4 linked regions of the Homo sapiens genome follow. The protein of the gene in region 2 purifies or fractionates together with the protein of the main gene of each other region. This does not show direct contact. Each region holds a gene or a part of one and is shown on either strand. Other genes may lie near its edges.

Region 1 (7,024 bases), on a different chromosome or scaffold from region 2:
TGCTTGCAGTCAAGCAGAATGTACCTCCTGCAGAGACAAATCTTCTGCATGAGATTACTGATGCTTCACTTGCACTCTAAGCTGGAATCCAAACTCTGGTTTGTCTCTTGAAAATTTGACTCTATAAAACTGATCTGATTTTCTGTTTTTAAAAATAAATATATTTTTGGAAAAAAAAAATATCTGGCTTCCCAAATAAAACTTTATAAGTGAATCTCATCTCTAGCTATCTCCTAGGATGAATGGAGATATAACAGTTGTCTTCAAGGGTGAAGAGAAACATTTTTACATAGGAATAACCTAATCGTATACCTTTGGTCGGAGCTCTAAAGAATTAGGAAGAATGTGAAAGACTGGCTGGCTTTGTGGGCTACTATCTCTCTCTAGCTTTTAGAGTTTGGTTTTTCAGAATATTTCCAATCATCTTGCACCTGCTCCATAAAAACATTCCCAAGTGCCACCCCATTTAAAATGTCATTATCATACCTGTACAGGTAATAACAATGTCCACTTGTCGGATGACCTCATTTAATTTCACCAGTCGAAATCCATCCATACTGTTGAAATAAAGCATGACCCATTAACCTAAACAGGCAGCTGGGGAGCCTTTTAACACAGGACTTCAAAAGCTAATATCAAGTTGCTGTCATTTCTTGAGATAGCTGAACTATTCTTAGAAGTGAAAAATCCAAACAATTTCCTTAGTTCATACAAGACAGAAATAAAAGGTTCGTTTGCATCACGGAACTTATTTCTTCCTGATAATAGGGAGCCAGGGGCTACCATGAGATTCCCTGACCAAATTTCTAGAAACTGTAGAAAGTGCCACTTAGCCATTTAACCAACTACCCCATTGAAACTGCTCTCTCCAAGATCATCAGTGATCCCCCGAAGGCCAAACCCAAGATTTCTTAGACTCTTAACTGTGTGTGTTTTTTTTTTTTTAGAGATGGGATCTCACTATGCTGCCCAGGCTGGAGTGCAGTAGCTAGTCACAGGCATAATCATAGTGCACTACAGCCTCTAACTCTTGGCCTCAAGCAATCCTCCTGCCTCAGCCTCCTGAGTAGCCAGGACTATTGGCATACACCACCATGCCCAACTTCTTAGACTCTTATATTATTTGATTTCTTCTACTACATTAAACATTATTTGCCTTCTTAAAACTCTATACCCCTTGGACTCCATGATACATCTCTCCTGGTTTTCCTCTTACTTCTCTTAATTGCCTCTCCTCAACTTCAGCCAACCTTTGGATATTGGTGCTCTGCAGGGTTATGCCTTTATTCTTTTCTCTATTCTTTCAGTATAGAGAACCATACTCTTCCTTTGGCTGCAAATGACTGCTGATAGATGGCTGATTTTTACATTTGTAACTTTAGCTTAGATCTCTCTGAAGCTTCATAGCCAAGGATCAAATTAGCCACTGGATAGCACCTCATCAATGTCCCAGAAGGATCTCAAACTTACTGTGTTTGAAAATAAACTTATTATTTTCTCTGCACCCATAATCTCATCTATTTCTTCTTCTATATTTTCTATCTTGATCAATAGCATCACTGTTCATCCAACTGAATGAGCCATATAAACAAGAATGTCCTTGCTGCCTCTCCTGAATTGAAGTTGTCACCAAATCTGGGTGACTCTTTTTCTTTAATTCCATAAACGTCTCTTTCATCTCTCTACTCTTCTCTAATACATACTGGCCTTGCTTAAGTTTAGGTCTTATTACTTCTTGCCTAGATTACTATAGTAACCCCTGGCCCAATCTCATTGCCTCTAGGTTTACATCTTTCTAAATCATTTGGCAGAGTGATTTTCCTAAATGCAATTTGGATCATGTCGCTTCCTTTCCTTAAAATACTTCAGTGAGACTGCCTGTTCTTAAGGATAAGACAGGATAAGAGTAAGACCCAAATACTTACAGTGATATGTGATTATATTGACATATGACTCCCATGACTCCTACCTTAGATAGTACCACTCCCCCAAATGTATTTCATCTGCCAACTACATTAAAATATTTCTAGCTTCTTAAATCTGCCATGCTATCTCCTTCCTTGGAGACAACACACATGTTCCCAGTACCTGGAATATACTTCCAAACTAAGAAAACACCTATACAAATGTCAAGACTCAGCTCTGCTGACATCTCTTTCTACCCTGCTCCCTTGCTCTTCAGTAAGCAATTTCTCCTTTATGCTCCTACAGAAGCATGTGCCGTTTAACTCCATGACAGCACTTACTTTGCTGCACAGTGGTTATCTGTCTGTGTGCTTCTAAAAGCAGGACCTTATCTCATTTATATATTCATCTTATTCATTCTCAGCACATAGCACAGTATCTAATGCATAGTAAGTGATCAATTCGTGTCTACAGGATAATCTGAACAGGATAATCTGAACTGTTCAGTATCTGAACAGTATCAATTTGTATTAAAATATGTTCAGGTTCCTAAACTCTTAGTGTACCAGAAGGATGATGGTTCCCCTAGGCTACAGACACTTGGACTCTGCAATAGTTTTTAAGAACAGTGGTATTTCCCACCCTGCTGAGGATGGCAAGAGACAATTTTAATAACAGCTATTATTTAATGAGCATATATTATGTGGCAGCAGCTCTGTACCTTATATAATTATGTATTTGTTATATAATGTATAATATAGAATAATAATTATTTTGAGACATGGTCTTGCTGGGTCACCCAGGCTGGAGCGTAGTGGCATAATCACAACTCACTGCAGCCTCCACCTCCCAGGCTTAGGTGATACTCATACTTCAGCCTCCCAAGTAGCTGGGACCACAGGCATGCACCACCACACCCAGCTAATTTAAAAAAATTATTTGTAGAGATGGGGTCTCCCTATGTTGCCAAGGCTGGTCTCGAACTCCTGGGCGCAAGCAATCCTCCTGCCTCAGCCTCCCAAAGTGCTGGGATTACAGGCATGAACCCATTACACCCAGCCTATGCTAATTATTATTTTACTGAACTCTCACAATCCTATGAGGTAGGTATGATTACACACATTTTATAGATAAGAAAAGTTTTAACTTTTAATTTTAGAATCATTTCAAACTTAAGAATTATAATACTAGTGTAAATAATTCTCATATATGCTTCACTCAGAGTTAGTAGATTTTACCCTTAACTGGGATTGGTCTAATGTTTCCTCACAATTAGATTCAGGTTATACATTTTTGGGAGGAATACCACAGAAGGGCTATTTTCAGTGTAACACATCAGAAGGCATCTGATGCCTGCCAATTTCTTTTCTGATCATTATTTGAAAGGCAAGTATCATACATGGAGAAGGTAAGGGGCTACCTGTTCTCTGGCTGACAGAATCCCTGTTACTATCTCCACAGGATTTCTAAATTTTCGCTTTTCTGATAGTCTCTGCTCTCTCCAAGCAGAGCTCCTTGACCTTTTTAAAAGACAGATGCTTAGAGTTAGTGGCAGCATCTCTGAGGATCTGGGCTCCTCTAAAATAAAGTGTGGCATCAACCAGGCCATTCTTTGGAGACAGCTCCGAGATTGCAAGTGAGATGGTAGCGTAGAGGCTTACCAGGCTTGCAGGGCACAGATGGGGTCAATTTCAGTTACATACACAATGGAGCCCATGGCTTTCAGGGCAGCACAGCACCCTTTCCCCACCTGAAGAGGGGAGAGAGCACACATATTAAGGAAAGTCACTGAGAAAACCATTTCTCAAAGCTTCTGGTAAAGTGCACCCCCTCTTTCCACCCCCGAGAGGAATTTCACTGAATAGATTCATACTTGGGGAAAACGAGAAGAACAAATAATTGAATGCAGCTCATAAACAAACCCCTGGCTCCTGCTTATCGCATTCATGTGCACAAGAACACCCACACTCACGATTCATAATTAAAACACAAGCTAAAAAGAACATCACAAACGGTGGTACTGGAGCAAGTCAGAAAATCAACTTAAGGGAAAATGGCGGCAACGCAAAGGGAAAAAGAAAGTCTACTTCAACCAGAAGGCCTCTGAAATTCTTTTTCTCATCTAAAGTGGTAAAGGGTGTACTCATATGTCCATACAAATAAAAAATTCCAGAATATTTCAACAAAATCCATTTAAAACACCTAATAAACAAAAGGTTAAACTTCACCTCTCCATAGCCACAGACTACCACTTGCTTTCCACCAAACATCATGTCTGTTGTCCTTTTAAGTCTAGGGGAAAAAAAAACATTAAATCAGAAAAATCTTCTCTTGTTTCTCCCTTGAGGTTAGATTGAATCTCTTTGTTTTCATGGGGTTTTTTGGTTGGTTTTTCATTTTGAAAGAAAGTCTGGTTTCTTTATTTTTTTAAAGGGGTTTTCTGGTAAAGACCAGAAAACCTGCTAGACAAATTCTAAAAGACCTGTAACACTGAAAGTCTGGTTTCTATCCTAGAGAAACTAATGACCAGACAGGAAGGTTAAATAAAATACATATTTTCTCACTCCCTGCCATCTAACCAATCCTATATGTAAGGGTTTTTTTCCTTTTTTTTTCCCCTTTCTTGCAAGTGGTGCAGAAAGGAAGAAGATGTAGATAACACAGTAACTTTTAAACATAAAAGCAACATACATTTATTAGATAATATTTTGAAAATATAATATTTAGAAATAGAAAAGATACAAAGGAGAAAATAAAAATAATGTAATTTTAATTTATGAGGTGACAAAGCTCTGGCTTTATGGAGACATTATCCAGAGGTGCTACATGAATCCTTTCCAGAAATAACCAAAGCCAAAAAACTTAGAATCTCAACTGGACATCACAACTTCATCTCAAAGATAATAAACATTACCCATCAAGAATTGATTCACGGCAACAGTAGAGGTTGTCAAATTTCTGTTTGGTGACTGAGTCATTGACATTCATGGCTGGAACACACAGCTTCCCAGCTTTGGACAGTTGGTACAGCCTGAGGATGAGGGAAGCCAAGAACAAAAAACACCAGGACATTACAATCTACCATTGCTTTCATAGGAGGCCCCAGAAATACGTTGATTGGGTAGGCATGAGACCATGAGACATGACTAGTTTCATCCTGTTAGGTGGCCACTGAGAAATAAAGAATATCTTTCTAGAGCCTGCATATATAGCTTCACAATAAAGATTTTATTCAAAAGTCATGTGGGGGAAATCCTTGACCCACCTCTAAATTTTAAGGCCTTCACTGGAGACTATAAAAAGTGGGAGAGTGGGAGCGGGTTGAAGGTTGAAAAATTACCTACTAGGTACAATGTTCACTAAATCTGCACTGGTCTCCCTGCCTGCCAGAACTACAAGTGCATGAGACTACGCCTGGCTGTTTGTGCTTTTATTGTTTGTTTGTTTGTTTTGAGATGGAGTCTCACTCTTGTTGTCCCCGCTGGAGAGCAATGGTGTGATCTCAGCTTACTGCAACCTCTGCCTCCAGGGTTCAAGCGATTTTTGTGCTTCAGACTCCTGAGTAGCTGGGATTATAGGCGCCCGCCACCACACTCAGCTAATTTTTGTATTTTTAGTAGAGACGGGGTTTCACCACGTTGGCCAGGCTGGTCTTGAACTCCTGACCTCAGTTTTGTACATTCAAAAAGATGATAATGTATTGAAGCAGTGATGGTGGCTGGTTCAGAATTTACTTCCCTACAACTTTTTTTTTTCATACTTTTAGTTCTTTATGGGTGAAATAAATCATAGAAATGATCACAGAAATTGAACTGAAATAATTCCAATTTTACTCAGAGAATTATTACTCATTTGAGAAGCAGAACCCTACATCCTTGCTCTCCATGTAAGAATGTAAGCTCTAAGATGGCAGAGTTTTTTTCTGTCTGTTTTGTCTACTGCTAGATTCCTAGCATCTAGAGCAGTTCCTCATTCATTGTAGAAGTTCAATAAATATTTGTTGAATGAATGAATGAATATATGTGTCCAAAAAGGACAAGTTAATTGTTTACAATCACTAGAAAACATGAGGACTTCACTTGTTCTCCCACCTGCCCCCTTCTCACTATTTTAGGTTCATTATTTGTGTTGTTAATTAAAAAAAAAAAACAAGAGAGATCTGCTCACCTCATAGCAAGCTGAGATCTGGTCACCTCATAGCAAGCTGAGATGTGGTTACCTCATAGCAGGCTCCAATTTTTTTTTTTTTTTTTTTTTTTTTTTTTTTGAGATGGAGTCTCGCTCTGTCACCCAGGCTGGAGTGCAGTGGCATGATCTCTGCTCACTGCAAGCTCCGCCTCCTGGGTTCATGCCATTCTCCTCCCTCAGCCTCCCGAGTAGCTGGGACCACAGGCGCCCACCACACCAGGCTAATTTTTTTGTATTTTTAGTAGAGACGGGGTTTCACCGTGTTAGCCAGGATGGTCTTGATCTCCTGACCTCGTGATCCGCCCACCTCAGCCTCCCAAAGTGCTGGGATTACAGGCGTGAGCCACCGCGCCTGGCCCAGGCTCCAATTTTTAACATGTGTTTTATAGGTATGTGTTTATAAGATTTTATGTCTAGACTGCATAAAACCAGGTATGCCCATGTCAAATCTTACCTGTGAACTCCAGTAACACTCTCCTCTACTATGCCCTTGATTTTCTTAAACATGTTGGGATACTTTTTATAAATCCAGTGGGTAAGATCCCCTCCATCATCCAAGATCTGCAATAGTAAGCATCAATAACATCATTCACTTTGCTGAAGTCTCAAGGCTTCAGTGCTTCTCTGGGTCTTGCATCCCAATCTAATTAGCAATTTACAGATATTTAAAATTTCCCATATGGTTATGCAAAGTAACTTAAAGCCAGAGTAAATACAATAATCTGCCAAATAGTCATTATATTGAAGTAAAAGACAATGAGAGGAGAAAGGCCAATTGTAATTCGCGCAGCCAAACGACCCTCCCCGTGACATATCTACTGTATCAAAATATACAGCAACTAACCGAGGATTTTCTTATGGATTGGTAACTTGTAGTTACTAGGCCACTAGATCTTGAATCTACTATAGGTATTCAGAAAGCCTAAAGGGA
Region 2 (7,024 bases):
GTAACAAATAGCCGGGCACGGTGGCTCACTGTCATCCCACACTTTGGGAAGCCAAGGCAGGCAGATCACGAGGTCAGGAGTTTGAGACCGGCCCGGCCAGCGTGATGAAACGCCATCTCTACTAAAAATACAAAAACTAGCTGGGCGTGGTGGCGCCCGCCTGTAGTCCCAGCTACTTGGGTGGCTGAGGCAGGAGAATTGCTTGAACCTGGGAGGCGGAGGTTGCGGCGAGCCGAGATCGTACCATTGCAGTCCAACCTGGGCGACAGAGCGAGACTCGGTCTGCGGCGTGGGGGAACCTGTGAGCAGCAGGTCATGTGGTTTGCCACCACAGATAGGGCACAAGGTTCCGTGTGAGGCCCCTCAGTCAGGACGGCATCTGGGAGGGAGCCCCACGGAGGCTTCACGGCAACGCCAGCATGGAGGGAGCCGGCACTCACCTAGGGGGCTGTAGGATGAGGCTGCAGAGCCCAGTGTGCCCGGCTCTGAACGCAGGGGTGGCGGCTGCTGGGGAGGCGTCATGGCTGAGGAGCCCACCGGCCCTGGGAGGGGCTGGGACAGCGAACCGAGCGGCGAGGTGGACGCAGAGGATGGCGAGTGTAGCGATGGTGCTCTGGGCAGGGAGCCGGGGATGGCGACAGGTGCAGAGCCGGCCAGCGACCTGGGACCTGGCGGGGGCGGACCAGTCAGCGAAGGGAGTACCGCCAGGCCTCTGCCCAAACATCTGCCATGGGCGGCAGCCGTGGAAGACGGACCCTGCAGGTGGTGGTGGTGGGGATATGGGGGGTGGGAATATAGGGGCCAGGCCAGCCACCACCATCTATGTGTTTGGAGCCACAGCGCCCCCGGTGGCCATGTCCAACACAGCTGGGCAAGCCATGGGCTCAAAGGGATTCCAACCAGAGGTGGGGAGACGGGGGTTTAACATGGGCCCCCCCCAAAGAGGCCGGACACCCACCAGGCCCTGCCGGCCAACTAAGCCATTGGCACGGTCCTCCCAGCACTTGTCCAGGCCCCCTGAAATGGTTTACTTTCTTTTAAAAGAAAGAAAAGATACACTTTTAGGCTGAATGAAAAGATGTTGTATACGATGTTAAGATACATTTGTATGGGGCCGGGCGCACTGGCTCACGCCTGTAATCCCAGCACTTTGGGAGGCCAAGGCGGGCAGATCACGGGGTCAGGAGATGGAGACCATCCTGGCTAACATGGTGAAACCCCGTCTCTATTAAAAATACAAAAAATTAGCTGGGCGTGGTGGCGGGCACCTGTAGTCCCAGCTACTCCGGAGGCTGAGGCAGGAGAATGGCGTGAACCCGGGAGGTGGAGCTTGCAGTGAGCGGAGATCGCGCCACTGCACTCCAGCCTGGGCGACAGAGCGAGGCTCTGTCTCAAAAAAAAAAAAAAAAAAAAAGATACATTTGTATGGATGTCAATCTTTTGTCTACAATGTGAATACATTTATCCTTCGGGGACCATCAAGACTTTCAGGAAAGGCCCCGCCTGTCTCTGCGCGGCCACTTTGCTGGGACAAAGGTCAACTGAAGAAGTGGGCAGGCCCGAGGCAGGAGAGATGCTGAGGAGTCCATGTGCAGGGGAGGGAAAGGGAGAGGCAGTCAGGGAGAGGAGGAGGAGGTACCGCCAGAAGGGGATCCTCCCGCTCCGAAAACCAGACACCGGGTCTTGCCCTGTGGTCCAGGCAGGAGTGCAGTGGTGCAACCTCAGCTCACTGCAGCCTTGACCTCCCCGGGCTCAAGCGATCCTCCGGCCACAGCACTTGGCTGTTCAGCGGCTGGAGGAGCAGGGCCCCAGGTCCTCCCCACCCTCACCTGCTGCTCCCAGGTCGTGGCCGTCTTGCTCTTCCAGGTCCTTCTCTAGGGATGCAATATTCACATTGCTAAGATGCAGGTCTAACGCAGAACCTGTCAACAGAGCCCCCCATCATCCACAGCCCACCCAGCGCTGCAGAGCTCAGGAAGCCTAGCTGAGGAGGACGACCGTCCCACCTGGGCTTAGAGTGAGACCAAGGGCAGAAGGCGTGGGAGTTGCTGGGGCAGCCAGGGAAGGACACCCCCAGCCCGTCCTCGCAGCCCCCCACAGGCAGTGTGAGGCTTGGCTGTTCCTCCGGCAAAACGAGCGTGCTCAGGTGGGACGCCCCGCACCACAGACCAGCAGCTGGGTCCTCGCCTCTGACACGCTGCTGCTGCCCCTCAGAGTTTAAATACCTAAGTGTGTGTTAGCATCTGTCCACGTGTGCACATTCGACTGTTTAAAAAACTTTCCAGGGCCGGGTGCGGTGGCTCACACCTGTAATCCCAGCACTTTGGGAGGCCGAGGTGGGCAGATCACAAGGTCAGGAGATCGAGACCATCCTGGCTAACACGGTGAAACCCCGTCTCAACCAAAAAAAAAAAAATACAAAAAATTAGCCAGGCGTGGTGGCGGGTGCCTGTAGTCCCAGCTACTCGGGAGGCTGAGGCGGAAGAATGGTGTGAACCCCAGAGGCGGAGCTTGCAGTGAGCCGAGATCGTGCCACTGCCCTCCAGCCTGGACGACAGAGCAAGATTCCATCTCAAAAAAAACAAAAACAAAAACAAAAAAAAAACTTTCTGTGAGGGTGATTTCAAGGAGCAGGTGTTCACGTGCAATTTCATGCCAAGCACCAAGACCTCAATTCCCAAGGCTCAAGACTGAGTGGGAAGGACCCGCCTCAGAGTGGCCTCACCCAGCCAGCCCTGCCTTCCAAGGCTGTCCCCACACATCCCTGCAGGCCGTGGGGCTGCCCTCCTGCACGGGCCCTTCCCTCCCAAGTCCCCACCCCCAACCCCGAATGGCAAGCAGGGACCCCACTGCCCCTTCCTAGAATTAGGAAGCCATCATGAGGAGGCTGAGCTCAGGCCACCAGCCCCTGAAGCCACAGCGTGTCTCAAACTCCCGCAGCCACTGCACAGAAGTTGGGTTGGGGGTGAGGGGTGACCAGAGGATCTGGGATCTGAGAGCCCACGTGCCACCTGGGGCAGACCAGAGGACCGCAGCGGCTGCAGGAGCTCTGGGATACACCCTGTGGGCCGGCGCCGCCTCCCCAGCCCAGCCCAGTGTTGTGGCCAACACCGCACAGAGACCTCAGCAGCGTGGGGCACACCGCACAGGGACTGCCGGCCTACACTGCACAGAGACCTCAGCAGCGTGGAGCACACCACACAGGGACTGCCGGCCAACACCGCACAGAGACCTCAGCAGCGTGGGGCACACCACACAGGGACTGCCGGCCAACACCGCACAGAGACCTCAGCAGCGTGGGGCACACCACACAGGGACTGCCGGCCAACACCGCAGAGACCTCAGCAGCGTGGAGCACACCACACAGGGACTGCCGGCCTACACCGCACAGAGACCTCAGCAGCATGGAACACACCACACAGGGACTGCCGGCCAACACCGCACAGAGACCTCAGCAGCATGGAACACACCGCACAGGGACTGCCGGCCAACACCGCACAGAGACCTCAGCAGCATGGAACACACCGCACAGGGACTGCCGGCCAACACCGCACAGAGACCTCAGCAGCGTGGAGCACACCGCACAGGGACTGCCGGCCAACACCGCACAGAGACCTCAGCAGCGTGGAGCACACCACACAGGGACTGCCGGCCAACACCGCACAGAGACCTCAGCAGCGTGGGGCACACCACACAGGGACTGCCGGCCAACACCGCACAGAGACCTCAGCAGCGTGGGGCACACCACACAGGGACTGCCGGCCAACACCGCACAGAGACCTCAGCAGCGTGGGGCACACCGCACAGGGACTGCCGGCCAACACCGCACAGAGACCTCAGCAGCGTGGAGCACACCGCACAGGGACTGCCGGCCAACACCGCACAGAGACCTCAGCAGCGTGGAGCACACCGCACAGGGACTGCCGGCCAACACCGCACAGAGACCTCAGCAGCGTGGAGCACACCGCACAGGGACTGCCGGCCAACACCGCACAGAGACCTCAGCAGCGTGGAGCACACCGCACAGGGACTGCCGGCCAACACCGCACAGAGACCTCAGCAGCGTGGGGCACACCGCACAGGGACTGCCGGCCTACACCGCACAGAGACCTCAGCAGCGTGGAGCACACCACACAGGGACTGCCGGCCAACACCGCACAGAGACCTCAGCAGCATGGAACACACCGCACAGGGACTGCCGGCCAACACCGCACAGAGACCTCAGCAGCGTGGAGCACACCGCACAGGGACTGCCGGCCAACACCGCACAGAGACCTCAGCAGCGTGGAGCACACCGCACAGGGACTGCCGGCCAACACCGCACAGAGACCTCAGCAGCGTGGAGCACACCGCACAGGGACTGCCGGCCAACACCGCACAGAGACCTCAGCAGCGTGGAGCACACCACACAGGGACTGCCGGCCAACACCGCACAGAGACCTCAGCAGCGTGGGGCACACCACACAGGGACTGCCGGCCAACACCGCACAGAGACCTCAGCAGCGTGGGGCACACCACACAGGGACTGTTGCGCAGGCGCCCTCCCCGCTGCCCACCTTTGGCATCCACTCTCCCATGTGCGCTGTGTGGGGTCTCTCCTGGGGGGCCCTGCCCTGTCGTCCCTGCTGGCTGCAAGTTCTTGGACCCTCACTGATGCCTGGTACTGGACAGTGTGCTGCTGAGGCCTGCTCTGAGACAGGCAAAGCCACCCCTGCCTGTCCCTGAAGGGCCCTAGACCCCCTTCCTCCTGTCCTCACCTGGGACCGATGGTCCCTCCATGGCCCCAGGCAACCGCACCCCGGGGAAACCTGTCAGACCCGACCGTGGGGGTCGGCGCGCCGGGAACCTCCACAGCCTGGCCAGCCCCTGCCTGGTGCTCGGTTCAGACAAGCTGGGGCCCAGCAGAAGCAAAGAGGCGGTCACTGCCCCACCTACCCGACATCGAGTCCCGCCCTCGCAGACCTCCTGCAGCCTCACTCCCCACAACCCACCCCACCCAGCAGGGAGCTGGCTGAGCCAGGCAGGGCTGACTCGTCAGGACTTGGTGGCCATGTCAGGGTGACAGCAGGTTCACCACACAGGGGGCATCCCAAAAAACAGCTGGAGAAACAAGGACTCGGCAGCCAAGGGGCCGCAGAGGGACAAAACCCCACTCTGCCGGGGAAGACAGCTGGGGCCTTTCCAGACATTTTCAGCATAATCAGCAGGAAAGGCAGGAGGGTGACTTCTGAAGAAGAACGCTGCCCTAGCCGCACATGAGATTTGTCGGGAACACAGCTGTGGGGCACGTGGCCTGCACCTCACCCCTCTGCCCAGGCCTCCGCTTCTCCTCCCTGGAAGCAGCTGGCACCAGTCAGCGCCACGGGGACCATGGGAGCAACCACAGGGTGGCGGGTGGCCCCTCGCCCGAGGCCTGGCGCTCGGCGGTCACACCCCCCGAGCCCCCCAGGGCAGCCGGAGTATCCTCGTGCCGCGGTGGTGGCCCCAGCGGAGCACAGGCAGAGGCTGGCGTGGACGTGGCGCAGCTGGCAGGTCCGGGCCTCTGAACTTCACCCCGAATCTGGCCGCGCTCAGCAGCCACACTGTGTGGAGACCGTGCTCCACCACCCAGAGCGGCAGGCGGGAGAGAAGCCTGGCTCGGGAGTGGACGGTGGACTCCAGAGGCCGCAAGGCAGAGGCCACCCCCACCCCACTCCACCGCACAGCACGACCCAGACTCAACCCTCGTCCACACGCCAGCCGTGAGGGAATTTCCGGGGCGTGGAGGCCGGGCTGTGGCGCCACCTGGCAACACTGTCCTTCCCCATCCCGTCACAGAGGCAGCAGGGCCCAGGGCAGAGAACCTGAACCCCTGGGGCGTCCGGGACGGCACACGGCGCATGCGGGAGTGGCCTCCACTCCCACGGAGACACCGTTCCAATGAAGCTTTTAGGGACTTTCGAAGGTCTTATCCAGAAACTAGAGTAACAGGTTGGGGGTCGGGGCAGCCAGGCCAAGACCCCCTGGGGACCAGGAACCCACAGTAGCATCCGAAAATGCCTCAGCCCTCAAGGATGCTCATCGGCGGAGCCAAAGGCAGGCCTTGGGCCAGCCGCACCCAGAGCCATTCACTCCTCTCCTTCCCATTCACAGGACGGTGGCGTCCCTGAGCGGACATCCACCCTGGCCTGCAGGGTGGGCCAGCCCTCCCGGTCGCTGTCATCCACTTGACGTTCTCAGGCCATGGCTGAAGAGGGCAAGACCTCAAAGCCTGACTGAAGTCGTGCTGAGCAGCAGAGCCGAGACACTGCAGGCAGTGGCAGAGGACCACGCACTGAGCGGCCTTGGACAGGTGGCTCCAAGGCTGAAAGTGAGATCTGTGGCGGGCAGGGCCTCTTCCCTCCTCCCTCCAGGGCTGGGGCGCTCCTCCTCCCTCACTCCAAGGCTGGGGCACGCTCCTCCCTCCTCCCTCCAGGGCTGGGGCGCTCCTCCTCCCTCAGTCCAAGGCTGGGGCATGCTCCTCCCTCCTCCCTCACTCCAAGGCTGGGGCATGCTCCTCCCTCCTCCCTCCAGGGCTGGGGCGCTCCTCCTCCCTCTCTCCAGGGCTGGGGCACGCTCCTCCTCCACTCTCCCTCCTCCCTCCAGGGCTGGGGCACTCCTCTTCCCTCCTCCCTCACTCTAGGGCTGGGGTGCTCCTCTTCCCTCCTCCCTCCAGGGCTGGGGCACTCCTCCTCCCTCCTCTGAGGGCTTGGGGATGCTCCTCCTCCCTCTTTCCAGGGCTGGCACACTCCTCCTCCCTCCAGGGCTGGGGTGCACTCCTCCTCCTGGCGTCCATCCTCCTTCATGGCTGGCAGCTGCGTGGCTCCAGTGTCTGCCTCTGCTCTGGGGGCCACCTCTTCCGAGTGTCTGTCCAAGTTTCTTCTTATAGGGAGACTGGTCACTGGCTCAGGGTCCCACCCTACCGGCCTCATTTTAACCTGGTTATGAGGACCCTGCAGTAGCACCCTGCGATCTGTAGCAGGGGGATACATTCCAAGACCCCCCC
Region 3 (7,024 bases), on a different chromosome or scaffold from region 2:
TACCTGGAACTATACAGAAACCAAGCTCACAGCAGGCAGTGGGCTGCTGGCCAGGTATGGCCATGGCCCGGGGGGATAGTCACTACAAGGGGCATCAGCGACCTCTACCAGCCCCACTGCTTCAGATAGGAAGACAGAGGCTCAGATAAGCTGAGGGACCTCCCCTCACCACCCAGGTACTAAGAGGCACTCCCCGGAATTCAGCACAGATCCGACACTCTCTCCAGTGGTTTTACGCTCAAGGGTGCTGGATTCCTTTAATTTTTACTTTTAATTTTACTTCAGCTAGCCTGAGCTGGGTTTCTGTCACACACACTCGGTGAGCCTAACACACCAGGCCCAGTCCCTCCCTACAGCGGCTCCCACCGTGGCACCCACCATGCTGCGTCACGGCAGGCGCACAAGCCACCCATTCCCACCCTCACTCCCTACCCACAAGCAGCCCCGGTTTTCATCCCTGCATTCCCAGGGTCTAGCACAAAGCCAGACAGAGCAGGTTCCAATGAATGTTTGCCAAAGACTGCCCAGACTCCCCCGTCGTCTCTAACGTAAAACCTGTGCCTAAAGCCTGGCAGACCAGGACTCCAGGTGAACTTCTGGACAACCCAGCACACTCCACAGAGCCCTGGGTTAACTTTACCTTTGCATCGGTGTTGATATATTTATTGAATCTCTTGAATGCATCAACGTTGAACTTCATCAGCTCCCCCAGGAGGTCAAAGTAACTCTGGAGCACATCCCTTGACTTACACTCGCTGTCCACAATGCAGTAAAGGATGTGCTGGGTGAGGAGGGACAGGGTGAAGGTGTCAACGTGGCTGCCCCCACCAGGGCCTGGCATGGAGCTCAGACCATGCATTGGCTTTGAGCAAGCATCCTGGGGATGGAACTGGCAACACTGTCTAGATTCTTGTCTGAGGATGCTGGTGGCTCCAAGGACAGGACCAGGCCTGACAGACCTCACCAGGAGGTGGAGCAGACTGGGAATGCAGCACAATCTCTCCCCTGCCCAGGGCGTACAGCTGAAGCCTGTGACCTGCTCTGTGGTCACCAAGATGGCCGGGGTGCTCAGCTCCTAGGTGAGGGGAGCTGTCATCACCAGGTCTAAAACACAGGCCACTGCCTAAGCACTGAGGTCATTCAAGTAAATGAAGGACAGAATTTAAAAGCAAAGGACACATTTTGACCCCATGGTTTGTCTTTGTGTTTATGAACGAAATTGTTTAAATAGAGTTTACACCAAAATACTGAGTTTTCATCAAGAGAATAAAGCCAATTTACTCCTTTATAAAGTTTTCTACATTTTCTTGAAGTTACATTGATTTGGATCAATTCTTTTCCACATGGATTTTATAATTCGTGGGTCAGTTTCTTGTCCATATGAAAAAATCTGAAAGACCAATTATAACTTTGGCCATTCTGCTCTAAGTTTTACTTTTTCTGAAGACCATTATTCAATAAAGGAAAATTAACTTTTAGTACAAAATATCTTCAGGGTCAAAATGCCTTGCTGGGTAACCAAACTGTCACCCTCCTGCATGGCCTGGCCACCCTCTAAACCTGTCACCCCGTAAGCACCCATGGGGAACCCACAGTTGGAAACCCAGGGCAAAATCTAAGGCAGCCTGCACAGGCATTTGGAAGTCACGAGATCTGCTCTGCTCCTGATGAACTGTTTGGGGCTCAGGACAGGACACAGCAACGCGTGGGCTGGGGGGAGACGGAACCCAAGACACTGGCTGCTCCAGATCATACCTCCAAGAGGCCTCGCTTCAGCAGGAACATCTGGTCTGCATAGGAGGTGGTCCCTCGGAGGAAACTCTCCACAGCCCGAGCTTGCCAAAACCTGCGACCCAAATACTGGCTCAGGTGGCTAAGGCTGCCCTCTTCCGGCCCATGTTCAGTTCTCCAAGGGGTTGGGAGATGTTTGTTGCCTTTTCATGTACTCAACATTTACTGAACATCTACCAAGCATCAGGCTTCATCCTGGGCCTGGGGACACAGCAGTGCCCCCATCCTCACAGAGAGCCAGCTCAGTGGAGAAGTCTTCTATCTGGGTCTGTCTGGAAGGGGCTGTGTCACAGAAAGGGTAACATCTGGGATCGAAGGGCTGGCTCCTGCGAGCCCCCGTGAAACATACTCTAGGCCTTGCCCTTTCACAAGAATGGGAGGACGTGCAATTGAGGGGCCAGGAATGTGTGTGGGAAGCGGACGAACACATGCAGACAGGCCACTGGGCTCACAGACGATGGGCTGGCCTAGGGAAGTAGTGGTTGATGCTGACCGAGGGACCCAGAGGGCACAGCGGGTATCCACGACAGGGAGTTTGGACAAGGCACTGAAGTGACAAAGGCCCATGTGGGCATGAAGCCTCCTGACAGCTCACGCCCGGCCCTGATGGAACTCTACCTGTCCACTGACTTCAAGACTCATCTTAGATGTATCTAAGGACCTCAGAGAAGGTCTCCCTGTATTCACCCAGCCCCCAGCCCTAGCAGCGGAAGAGGCTTTCCTTTGCTGCTATAGCTCCTGGGCCAACCCTGGCTCCATTCCTTCCCACACTGCATTGAAACAGCACAGCTCTAGGGAATTCATGGCAGGGCCCGTATCCTAGTTCTCTCCCACCCATAAGGCACCAGCACAGAACAGGTGCTTGGTGAATGCTCGGTCACTGTGGGCTGCAGAAGAAGCTCTCACATACCTGTCGAGTCAAAACTACACAAGATGGCAGTCAAACCACCTCTCCCCAACAGTAATTGTGCTTCAGGAGGCATGGACGCTGGTGACTAAAGGAGGTATTCCTAACCTCCTGAGAAACACCTGGCTCTGCAGCCCCGCAGAATCGGCAGGTACTTTTCCCCAGACTCACCTGAAAGACGACTCTGCTGGCTCCTTCTTCATGACCTGCAGCAGACGAGTTAATAAGCCCCTCTTCCCATCACACACCAAACTCCTGAAATAGAAGAGAGATATTGGTGACAGATCTGAGAGGCTGACAGGGGCCCTGGGGATGGGTCATTCTGCTGGCTTAGGCGGTGAAAAACCATGGGGACATTTCCAAGTCTGCAGGATGCCTTCCTGCTCCAACTGGGTCCAGAGCCCCGGAGACCCCTGCAGCCACAGAATTAAACTGCCAAGTGCATTCCCACCACATCTCAGGCCAGCTTTCCTTCCCAGGCCAGAAACATATCCAGAATCAGACATGGCTTAGAACTGCCAGAGGAGAGCTGTTTATACCAAAAGTGTGTTGAAACAGGTCATGCCAGTCTGCCAGATGGGGAAAGACTCTGCCAATAGGGTGAGGCCCAGCGTACTCCGTGCCTGAGGTTCACTTCCAGCTGGCCTTGGGCAAGTGTCCACAACTCCAAGCCTCAGCTTCCCAGTCTATGAAGCAAAGGCAGGAGATGAGGAAATGACTCTGGCCCCGTCATGGGGGAAGGAAGACGGCCAGGCACGCAGGGGTCTGGGCCCTTCAAACAGAGCAGCTCTGCTGTGATCCACTGCAGACATCAGGGCAGGACTGGGTACAATTTTATTTGAATGAAGAGTTCTGCTACCTTAGAAAAAAAAGATTGGGAGGCCAGGAGAGGTGGTTCACACCTGTAATCCCTGGACTTTGGGAGGCTCACTTGAGGCCAGGAGTTCGAGACCAGCCTGGGCAACATAGTGAGACCCCATCTCTACAAAAAAAAAGTAAAAACACTAGCTGGGAATGGTGGCGCACACCTGTAGTCCCAGCTACTCGGGCGGCTGAGGCAGGAGAATCACTTGAGCTCAGAAGTTTGTGGCTGCAGTGAGCTATAACACCACTGCTCTGCAGCCTGAGAGAAAGAGCAAGACCTTGTGTCTAAAAAACAAAACAAAACAAACAAACAAAAAAGGTTGGGAAATCATGGCTCTTGTTGGATAAAGTCCACTGTATTCTGACGCCTGTGAGACTAGCCCCCCACTGCCTGGCTCCAGGTGAGGCAAACCTAACCCAGGTAATGCAACCTAACACTTGGCAGCAGGTAAGAGGCTTCTGTCTGTCCTGCTTGGCTGCAGATGCCACCAGGCAAGAAAGGAGCACATAAGCAAAGGGGCTGAATGCACGAGACAAGGCGGTGGGGCAGTGCGGAGCACACATGACTTCTGGCAGGTGACCTCTCTGAGGCTCACCTCATCTGTCAAGTGCAGGTACTGATGGGGCTCCCCTCCTAGGGCTGCTGTGAGGCTCCAATGAGAAAATGCAGGTGACATGAATACAATGCCTGGCACACAGGAGCCCTCAGGACACTGTAGCTGCATGTGAGAGAGGACACGCGTGCATACCTGGATGTGCTCACCGGTGAGCCCCCGGGGAACGTGGGCAGCCGGGATGGGCTGAGGGAAAAGCTGCACCCCTGCACTCACCTGTCGGTGTTGAGGACAGCTTCCACCTCAGGGATGTTGGCCTTGAGAGAGATGGCACTGAGTTCATTCAGCTCCTGGTTGTTGAGTAACAAGTACTTGTTCCTGAAACAAAATGGGTTGGAGGAGGTAAAGGACAGGAACTGGGGCTGCTGGGTCAGCACCAGGCTAGTGTAGGGAGTCTCCTGCCCACTTCCTGTGGACAGAATCTGAGAAGCCACCAGGCACTTTCCTCTAGCACCTCTCACTCCAGCCAGCACCTGCAGGAGGGAACTCTGGGCTCTCAGGCAGTGGAATCTCTCCCTGGCCCCACCCCCATCCCCGACCCCTGCCTGCCACATTCATCGACAAGGCCCCTTCCCTCAGCAGCTCTGGGCCTTTCTCTTTGCCTACATTTCCACTTGTTTTCTCAAAGGCACCAACACCTCAACAGGTCCAATCACACTCAAGCCTGGCCCTGCTGCAGCAGTCCCACCAAGCACCACGGTCACACATCACACAGAGGCCTGGTTAACTGTGACACTTCCCCCGACTTGCCATCCAGGCCTGTCACTGCTGGGTCCTGTGTTCCCAGGACACCAGCTCCCTTTACTAAAAGGTATCCCACAGGAACTGAGTCATCACACGGTGCCAAAAGTGATCTTCAGAATCAGGACTCTGATCCTGTCACTCCCGGTGAAAACACTTCCACAGCTTCCCACTGCATTTAGAACAGACATTTCCTGACTTAGGAGGAGGTTATGTCCTGATAAACCCATCGTATTTGAAAATGCCGTTAAGTTGAAAACATATTGAGGCCGGGCGCGGTGGTTCACGTCTGTAATCCCAGCACTTTGGAAGGTCCAGGCGGGTGGATCACGAGGTCAGGAGTTCGAGACCAGCCTGGCCAACGTGGCGAAACCCCATCTCTACTAAAAATATAAAAAATTAGCTGGGCGTGGTGGCACACGCCTATAATCCTAGCTACTCAGGAGGCTGAGGTAGAATTGCTTGAACCCAGAAGGTGGAGGTTGCAGTGAGCCAAGATCATGCCACTGCACTCCAGCCTGGGCAATAGAGCAAGATTCCGTCTTGAAAAAAAGAAAAAGAAAGAAAACACATTTAATATATCTAACCCACTGAACCTCCTAGCTTAGCCTAGCCTACCTGGAATGTGCTCAGAACACTGACTTCAGCCTACAGTTGGCCATAATCACTGGCAACACGGCAGGCACAGCACAGAGTACTGGTTGTCTACCTTGGTGATCGTGTAGCTGGTCACCATTTTTCTTGAAATACATTCTGAGCTGCAGCTGCAGCTCAGTGCCCAGCATTGCAAGAGTATTGAACTGTTTATCATGAGCCCAGGAAAAGATCAAAATTCAAAATTCTACTTCTGTACCATTGTGAAGTTGAAAAATTCTAAGTGGACCATCTGTATATAAAATCCAGGCCTGTGACTGTGACCCACAACACCCTGTGACTGTGACCCACAACGTCCTGTGCAGCCCAGCCCAGAGCCAAGCCCACATCACTCCCATCAGCTGGCCACAATGGTCTTCCCTCGTTCAGGGGCTTCTGGCTAGAACACACACCCTCTCACATGCCTGTTCACTCAATTCACTACAAGCTGACACTTCAGGTCTTGGCTGGCAAGCCACTTCTGCAGGGGAGAGTTCCTGAGTGTCCTCTGGCCAGTCCTGGACCCTGTCAAATGTCTCTCACAGACCCCGTTCCTCTCCTCCTGAATACCATCTCCACTTATCACTAATGCTCAACGGTGGAATCCTTGGATGAACAACTGTCTCTGTTTTCAGACTCTGCCCTTCATGAGAGCAGGGGCCATGGCTGTTTGCATTCATCCTGATATCCCACAGAGTACTCAGACTGAAGAGTCTGATGAAAGCCAGAGACTCACTTCCTCAGGGAAAACAGCACAGTTCCATAACATATGTGGTGCCATTTTTCAGAAGGTTAACATGCTTCCTGGAGCCCTTCTATGGCTTTCAGCCGGAAAACCTCTCACAGAGGATGGGTGCATATGATGGAGGTGCCCTGGGGCCACAGCTGTCTCCAGGCATGTTCTGTTAGCTCAAATGCAAGGTTTTTAAAATATTTAAACCAACATTTAAAATCAGGACCTTTCACATAAATCTTAATTTCTGCCTTTGCTTGGCAGAAAAAATCAGAAGTTATGCAACAGTGGGCCCAGTTTCCTGTGCACACGCAGCTGGCTGGAGCTGAGCTCACTGAAATTCTTGTTCACTAAGGTCCCCACATCACCTCCCCAATGCCAAGGTCAAGGGTCAGCTGCTAGTCACCCCCTTCCTGCACTGTTTTCCTTACAGCAGAGAGTAATTTTCCTTGTACATTCTCCATCGAAGGTTAAAAAATAAATGAGCGCAGAATGTCTTTCAAGAAAAATGGGAGCACACCTCCTTGTGGAGGGAAGAATCCTCCAGCTGCTCAGTAAGCAGTCGGCTTTGCCTGTCTGAAGTTCCTGCCGGCCCCTGGGAATAGCCACGCTGTCCACTCTTGCTTTAGAGGGGCAGTAGGTTGAGAAATCCATTGATTCCAAAGGTAGTAAGGGGCCAACGACTTCCATACTCAGTTCCTGGGGTGGCTATGAGGGTTAGAAGAAAGCTTGGGGCAGTGC
Region 4 (6,851 bases), on a different chromosome or scaffold from region 2:
CTAAGGAACATAAGAAGTAAAAGGTAGGAGAGGGATGTCAAAGCAGCAGCAGCACAAATAGATCATTTAATCCTACTTACTGTAGGATGACCATATAATTTACCATTCTAACCAGGACACTTTTGAGAGGAAAGGGGACACTATTAATAATTACACAGGGACAACAGGTGTAGGCTGGAGCTGTGCCAGGCAAAAGTGGTTATGTGGTTACTCTCTATATAAGGGCAATCAGGTCCTTAAGGTTGAGTTCACGCCCACAGCTTGGGGTCTGGCAGAAGTACAATACTCTGACAGTGTCTTCCTGAATGACTCAAGTGGTCAAAAACGCAAGATTATTTTTCATTTTTTTACAGAGAAATAAAATACAATTCATGGCCTTTACTGAAGTTTACTGATTTGTGATTCATAAAACAATTAGCGTATCATTAGATTTTATTAAGAGCTATAATTTAGTGTTCTAGGAAATTTAGAAGGCCGAATTATACTTTGAAATGCACTGGCAGGCATACTAAGGAAGTCCTGAGGTGAATCATTTTTTATAAACCTACATTTTTATATATTACATTAGAGCCCTATAAATATATGTATACACTTTTTTTTTTTTTTTTTTTTTCAGACAGAGTCTCCCTGTCACCCAGGCTGGAGTGCTGTGGTGCGATCTCAGCTCACCGCAACCTCTGCCTCCTGGGTTCAAGAGATTCTCTGCCTCAGCCTCCCAAGTAGCTGGGATTACAGGTGGGTGCCATGACGCCTAGCTAACTTTTGTATTTTTAGTAGAGACAGGGTTTTACCATGTTGGCCAGGCTGGTCTCGAACTCCTGACCTCAGGTGATCTGCCTGCCTCGATGTATATACTCTTTTATACTTACTTTTGACTAGAGACAATTGAGACTTGAAAATTAGAAAAATCAAGTTAGAATTACTGAGAAAATTAGTAGCTCTGATATTCTACCCATTCTTTATTTTTAAATTAAAATTAATCTTAATGACCTACAAATAGGTTAACTTAAACAGTCCATACCTTACATGAGAAGCTCCGACTTGGGATGTTTCTTGCTAACTCTGATATCTTGGGTTTATTCTGAAGACACTTGGTTAGGTGATATTTTTTCAATTTTATTCTATTGTAACAATGATCAGCGAAGTTATAGTGATTCAAATGCTGTTTCTGCATGCATTTTCCAAGGTGAGGAATACTATACTTCAAAGCTTGGAGAAATAATTTGGTCTTCTGCTGCATGATATCAAAGTCCCTGGTTTATGCTCCTTTTGGGGCTGCCAGCACACGAATGATTTTATAGGTATGATTACAGAGTAGTGGGTTCTCAGAGTAACTAAGATCAGCAGTTCTCATCCCTCCTTTTCAGGGCCATGCCCCACTTAGGTTATGAATAACTTCAGACAGCTGATAACTTAGGCTAACTAAATCTAAAAACCTGTGTAAGTTAAAGTTTCATTCAAATCATAATTCTTGGCAGATGTGACTTAAATGTCTCATTTGTAAAGTTAATCCTATCAGGCTCAAACTATGCAGCACTGACTCTGGCACACATAGGGGTTAAACTAAAACAAAAAACAAAACAAGAAACAAAATATAAATTTGCAAATAAGTACACAGACTTAATGGGGTATCTCAGGAACTCAGGGCTGTAAAAGGTAAAAAGCCCTTTGGTCTTACATAATTATGAACGTATCTTTGGTATATATGTGGAAGATAAACTGGAAAAGCCTAATTATTTAATAAAGGTGGGGGAGGGAAGATTAATTATTGTTGAGTGTTAACTAACTGCCAGGTGCTTTTATCTTGTTTGTCTAATTTAAATTTTATATGGACTTAATAAAGTAGATATTACCATGCACATTTTACAGGTTGCCAAACTGTGGCTGTGGGAGGTTCTAAGCAACTGTTCCAGGTCACTTGTACAGTAAGCTGTATAGCAAAAAATCCAATTTGGTTCGGTTCCAAATACTGGACATACTCAACTTCGGATTTTTAATGTTAAAAAGGTATTTAGCGCTTTAATTAAAAACAACAAAAAACCCCTGCAAGATGCACAAATAAAATGTAAGGCCATCTCTGGTTTGTCAGGAGGTAGCTTTTATTAACCTTGATTGCTAATAAGTAGTTAAGAGTCAGAGAGACCTGGGTTGAGGTCTTAGCTCCTACACTTAACTGTGTCTCCGGGCCTCAGTTTCTTCATCTGCAAAAATGAAATGACACCATTTACCTTCTAGGGTTGTTGTTGTAAAGACAAAATGAGACAGCTTAACATTAAGACCATACAGTGCCTGGCACATAGTGACCACTCAATAAATGGCAGTTGCTATTATTTACGACAGGAATAATCTAGGTATGTTGCACACCGCTGAATGTCATTATGGAAGTCTTCCACAAAATGCCCCCTGGTATCAAAGGTAGAATGCTGCGTCAAATTTACCATAGATCAGATGCGCTACGACGCCCCCGCCCCCCTTAATCCCTTTCCATGTCGCAGCAAAATAATGGGCGATTGGGGGTAGGGGAGCAACACTAGTTTACTAGCCGACACTAGTAAAAAAAGGGGAAAAAAGACCCGAATAACAAGGACCTGCAAAGGTCCTACATCACCACGTTCCCACAGCCTTTATCCATCCATCTTTCATCCCCAAGAAGACAGTATGCAAGGCTAGGATGGGGGTGGGGTAGATAAATGGGTGTTCTCAGGAGAACCTATTCGTTTACCCCGTGCAACTCTCCACCCCAGGGATGAGGCGATCTGAATGCAACAGGGAGAGGGACCAGGTGACACGCACGCAGTGCCGGGACATTAGTCAAAAAGCGAGGACCTGGGGACTGAGGGGTGGGTGGCTGGGCGGGGGGAGAAAGGGGAGAAGGAAAGAGACCAGCACACCCCCCATACATACGCAAATTGAGAGAATCAGTCCGGCTCTGGACACAAACCAGTGAAGGCAGGCCGGAGAACCTGAAGCTCTCAGAGGGGAGCAGGTGTCACCGCAGGCAAGTCCAGCCGAAGTCTGCGTTCCGCAGCCCACAGAACGACAACTTACCCAGAGCCGCCTAGAGCTGGTTTGCAGCACGCCAATCTACGTAACCTCAATCTAGCACGAGCAACAGGCAGATTTCGCCATCTTTGTTGTGGTCAAGGAGTCTTCTTGGGTTCCTGGGTTCTTTAGTCTCGAAATATATAAGACTTTTCGTTCTTCGCTAGTCTTCTGAGCTCGAGATGAAGCACAGAAGGCTAAAACAATGAGGGACAGCGTTCCAGTAGCCCTGCCACAGCTCTCTCATCCTCTGGTCCGCCCTCACTCAAGATGGCTACCAGCAAGAATGGTGCAATGGCGTGACAGCTCGGCCCTGGTTGCCAAGGAGATGCGAGTACCGGAAATGCGGAATTCGGGGAGAGCGCGCATGCCTGGTCCGGTGGAGGGAGGGTGCCGGGCGTCACAGGTCCTGACAGGGAAGAAGTTGGCAGGTCCTGGCAGGGGACGAGCTGCGGCGGTGGCACCTCCGGGTGTGGAAGGCTCCAGTGAGATGGAGTCGCGAGTCGCGGACGCTGGGACCGGCGAGACCGCGCGAGCAGCGGGCGGGAGTCCGGCAGTTGGCTGCACCACTCGGGGGCCCGTAGTCTCGGCGCCCCTGGGAGCCGCCCGGTGGAAGCTCCTGCGGCAGGTAAGGGAGAACCTGCTCGCCTCACCTTTGCCTCTGGTCACTCCTCTCTCACGTACCGGGGGAGCGACTGTTCGCAGTTCTTTCCTCTTGGCAGCTCTGGGAGACCCTTCTCAGTTTGCCGGGAGCCACCTGCGAAGCTCCCCCTCGCTTCACCTAAGCGTCCCATCCAAGAGGAGGAATCATGTGGGGTTGGGTGGGGAGCGGGACAGCCAAGGCTGAGCTCCTGGGAAACTCAGATCGAAGTAGAAGAACCCCTTCTAGACATTTTTGTGCGTCTGGGGGACTTTTCCCCTTCTCGCCAGTCTCTGGTGCGCCCGCCGCTCCCCACTGCTCTTTTCCTGCTTCTGTTTTGCCTCCTTCCCCAGTTTCTTCTAGCTTAACTCCCAGCCTGGTTCGAGTTACCGATATTCGTCTGCACCCTCTGGCCCCGTCTTTTGCCCAGCGTGGTTGACTATGCCGGGACTGAGACACGGCATGCGTTCCCTCGGCATCTTCCGTACAGCGGAGCGTGCAAGGAGTAGGAAAAGCTGATACCCTCTCTCACTGAGGTCTCAAAGTTAAATGATTATCTTGTAGTTTGTAGTGATCAGCGAGATTCTCCGTGTCCAAGGTGGGCTAGTCAAAGTGTGTTCGTTTTTGAATGATGGTATCTTCTGGTACTTCAAAGTTTCTGCTGTTACTTACAACTCCACTCGTGCAAGCTTGACGGAAGTTCTGATTTATGATCACTCACATTCTTCGCTCACTTCTTGAAGTGAAGTCTGGTTATTGTTTTTGCATAGCAGTGTTATGCCTCTGCCTGAAGTTTTCTGCCGAAAACTTTACTCAGGAGGACATTTTTCCATTTCTGACAGTTGTGTTTGGAAAAGAGTTTCCCAGCTATTGCCACTTTACTTGAGATTGTGCTTTTAGTATTTTGGGGATCACTTTGTTTGCAGTTGCCTTGAGTCACCTTTTCATACAGTGGTCTTTTAGTGCTTTTAGAGTTATGAGTTAAGTAGATCATCAGAGTTAATTAAGATTTATTTGCTGATACATTGACAGTCTTTCCAGACCAGTAATGATCTGGTTTTGCTATTGTTACAAATGGTATTACAGGATAAGAAAATGCATGTCCTCACAGATCATCATAGGAAGTATCTATAATAAAGTAAATATCTAATTTTTTTTAATAGTGACCACTGAAATGAGATCTGGCGTGAGCTGGGGAGAGTGGACTCAACCCCCCTTCCCCCCTCCTTTTTTTTTGAAATGGAGTTTCCCTCTTGTTGCCCAGGCTGGACTGCAATGGCTGCCATCTCCGCTCACCACAACCTCCGCCTCTAGGGTTCAAATGATTCTCCTTCCTCAGTCTCCCCAGTAGCTGGGATTACAGGCATGCACCACCACGCCTGGCTAATTTTTTTTTTTTTTAAGTAGAGACGGGGTTTCTCCATGTTTGTCAAGCTGGTCTCGAACTCCCCACCTCAGGTGATCCACCCACCTCGGCTTCCCAAAGTACTGGGATTACAGGCATGAGCCACCGTGCCCGGCAACCCCCTTCTTTTTTTTTTTTTTTTTTCGATACAGAGCCTTACTGTGTTGCCCAGACGTGAGTGCAATGGCGCAATCTCGGCTCACTGCAGCCTCCGCCTCCCTGGTTCAAGCAATTCTCCCGTACTCAGCCTTCCGAATAGCTGGGATTACAGGTGCTCGCCATTACGCCCAGCTAATTTTTGTGTTTTTAGTAGAGACGGAGTTTCGCCATGTTGGCCAGGCTGGTCTCAAACTCCTGACCTCAGGTGATTCACTTGCCTCGCCTCCCGAAGTGCTGGGATTACAGGTATCAGCCACCATGCCTGCCACGCCCACCGCCCCCACCCTTCCTTTTTTTTTTTTTTTTTTTTTTAAATAAGATAGAGTCTTGCTTGTTGCCCAGGCAGGTAACTCCTGGGCTCAAGCAATCCTCCCACCTCAGCCTCCTGAGTAGTTGGAATTACAGGGGTATGCCATGATACCTGGCTTTCAGTGATTCTCAGTATAGTAAAAACTACAGCACTTATGTTCATTCTAAATTGCGGTCTAAATGAAAACAGTGACAAGTTTCAGCTGTGGCTGTTACATGAAGTCCCCACACGTTCTGACATCGAAACTTTTGGTATATATCTGCCTGCTTATAGTCTTTTTATCTTCTCTACTTGGTGAATGATTGTTCATTCTTCACACTTCCATTTCAAACTACTCTTCTGTGAAGCCACCCCTAATGCCTCTGGGCTAAGTTAGACCCTCAGCCAACTCTACCAATGAGCCCTTTATATTATTTTATGATCATGTGATCAGGGTCTCTTTTTCTTACTAGAATGGGCATTCACCCTGGGAAAAGGTGATGTTTTATTAATTTACATCCTCTGCACCTAGCACAGGGCCTGGTTAATTGATTTTTAGTAGATGTTGTTCAGTGTCTGTGGAAAGCCTGAGAGTAAGGACAGTCTTTAAGTGGCGCATAGCACCTAGTCCTTAGTGTATTTTATCAGTAAGCTATTGCTAAGTAAGAACCGCAACATCACAGTGGCATACAACAGTTAGTATTTATTTTGTTGGTGCATCTGGGGGCCACCTGGGAGCTGACCGACATAGGCTGTAGTCATCTGGGTATCTCTATGATGCACATGTGGTCCATATGTCTCTAATCTTTGGACTAGTGGGCTGAAGTCCTCATGGTGATAGCAGAGGTATAAGAGCAAGCCCAACCACAGAGACACATTTTAAACCCCTGCTCACATCATGTGTTTATTTCCTATTGGCCAAAGTAAGATATTTGGCAAAGGCCAAATTCAAGGGGCAGGGAAATACAACTCCTTCCTTGGAGGTGACAAAGAGGAAGTGAATATTTTTCTATTACAATTTAATCGATCACATATATTAAACATTTACAAGCTCTTAGTAAATGTATTTCAAATGAATGAACCATTCCTATCCTATATGCATCTAGTACTGGAAAACTATAAGGAATCTAAGCAGTGCTAGAGATATGTGACTCCTTTTCTCGCTCGTGGGACATCTGAAGAACATCTGCTCTGTCTACTTGTTTTTTCCTTTAAAATTCTGTCTTTCCATTACCCTATAGAGCTCCAAGGCTGTCTCATGGCCTTTTACTTTATGTTAACTATTCAGTATTTTCTGTGTTTTGTAATTAACAAAA

The links.
Region 1: the proteins of UNKL (region 2) and AHCYL2 purify together in Homo sapiens (affinity purification with mass spectrometry; 3 studies listed by BioGRID and IntAct, with this or other methods). This does not show direct contact.
Region 3: the proteins of UNKL (region 2) and TRPC4AP purify together in Homo sapiens (affinity purification with mass spectrometry; 2 studies listed by BioGRID and IntAct, with this or other methods). This does not show direct contact.
Region 4: the proteins of UNKL (region 2) and PREPL purify together in Homo sapiens (affinity purification with mass spectrometry; 2 studies listed by BioGRID and IntAct, with this or other methods). This does not show direct contact.

Annotation. Positions count from the first base shown.
Region 1 is NC_000007.14:129,403,009-129,410,032, reverse strand, and holds part of AHCYL2 (adenosylhomocysteinase 3), read right to left. Parts: intron 6,655-7,024; coding exon 6,548-6,654; intron 4,937-6,547; coding exon 4,820-4,936; intron 4,198-4,819; coding exon 4,134-4,197; intron 3,656-4,133; coding exon 3,567-3,655; intron 558-3,566; coding exon 487-557; intron 176-486; exon of another isoform or gene 1-175. UniProt on the Homo sapiens protein: May regulate the electrogenic sodium/bicarbonate cotransporter SLC4A4 activity and Mg(2+)-sensitivity. On the contrary of its homolog AHCYL1, does not regulate ITPR1 sensitivity to inositol 1,4,5-trisphosphate.
Region 2 is NC_000016.10:1,369,690-1,376,713, forward strand, and holds part of UNKL (putative E3 ubiquitin-protein ligase UNKL), read right to left. Parts: intron 1,923-7,024; coding exon 1,830-1,922; intron 669-1,829; coding exon 441-668; exon of another isoform or gene 318-440; coding exon of another isoform or gene 245-317; intron 1-244. UniProt on the Homo sapiens protein: May participate in a protein complex showing an E3 ligase activity regulated by RAC1. Ubiquitination is directed towards itself and possibly other substrates, such as SMARCD2/BAF60b. Intrinsic E3 ligase activity has not been proven.
Region 3 is NC_000020.11:35,005,795-35,012,818, forward strand, and holds part of TRPC4AP (short transient receptor potential channel 4-associated protein), read right to left. Parts: intron 4,495-7,024; coding exon 4,393-4,494; intron 3,385-4,392; coding exon of another isoform or gene 3,372-3,384; exon of another isoform or gene 3,265-3,371; intron 2,954-3,264; coding exon 2,870-2,953; intron 2,074-2,869; coding exon of another isoform or gene 2,034-2,073; exon of another isoform or gene 1,854-2,033; intron 1,847-1,853; coding exon 1,756-1,846; intron 782-1,755; coding exon 641-781; intron 10-640; coding exon 1-9. UniProt on the Homo sapiens protein: Substrate-recognition component of a DCX (DDB1-CUL4-X-box) E3 ubiquitin-protein ligase complex required for cell cycle control.
Region 4 is NC_000002.12:44,358,476-44,365,326, forward strand, and holds the start of PREPL (prolyl endopeptidase-like), read right to left. Parts: upstream 3,020-6,851; 5' UTR 2,905-3,019; intron 2,200-2,904; exon of another isoform or gene 1,241-2,199; coding exon of another isoform or gene 1,022-1,240; intron 1-1,021. Other genes in the region: CAMKMT (calmodulin-lysine N-methyltransferase), read left to right, coding at 3,533-3,670. UniProt on the Homo sapiens protein: Serine peptidase whose precise substrate specificity remains unclear. Does not cleave peptides after a arginine or lysine residue. Regulates trans-Golgi network morphology and sorting by regulating the membrane binding of the AP-1 complex.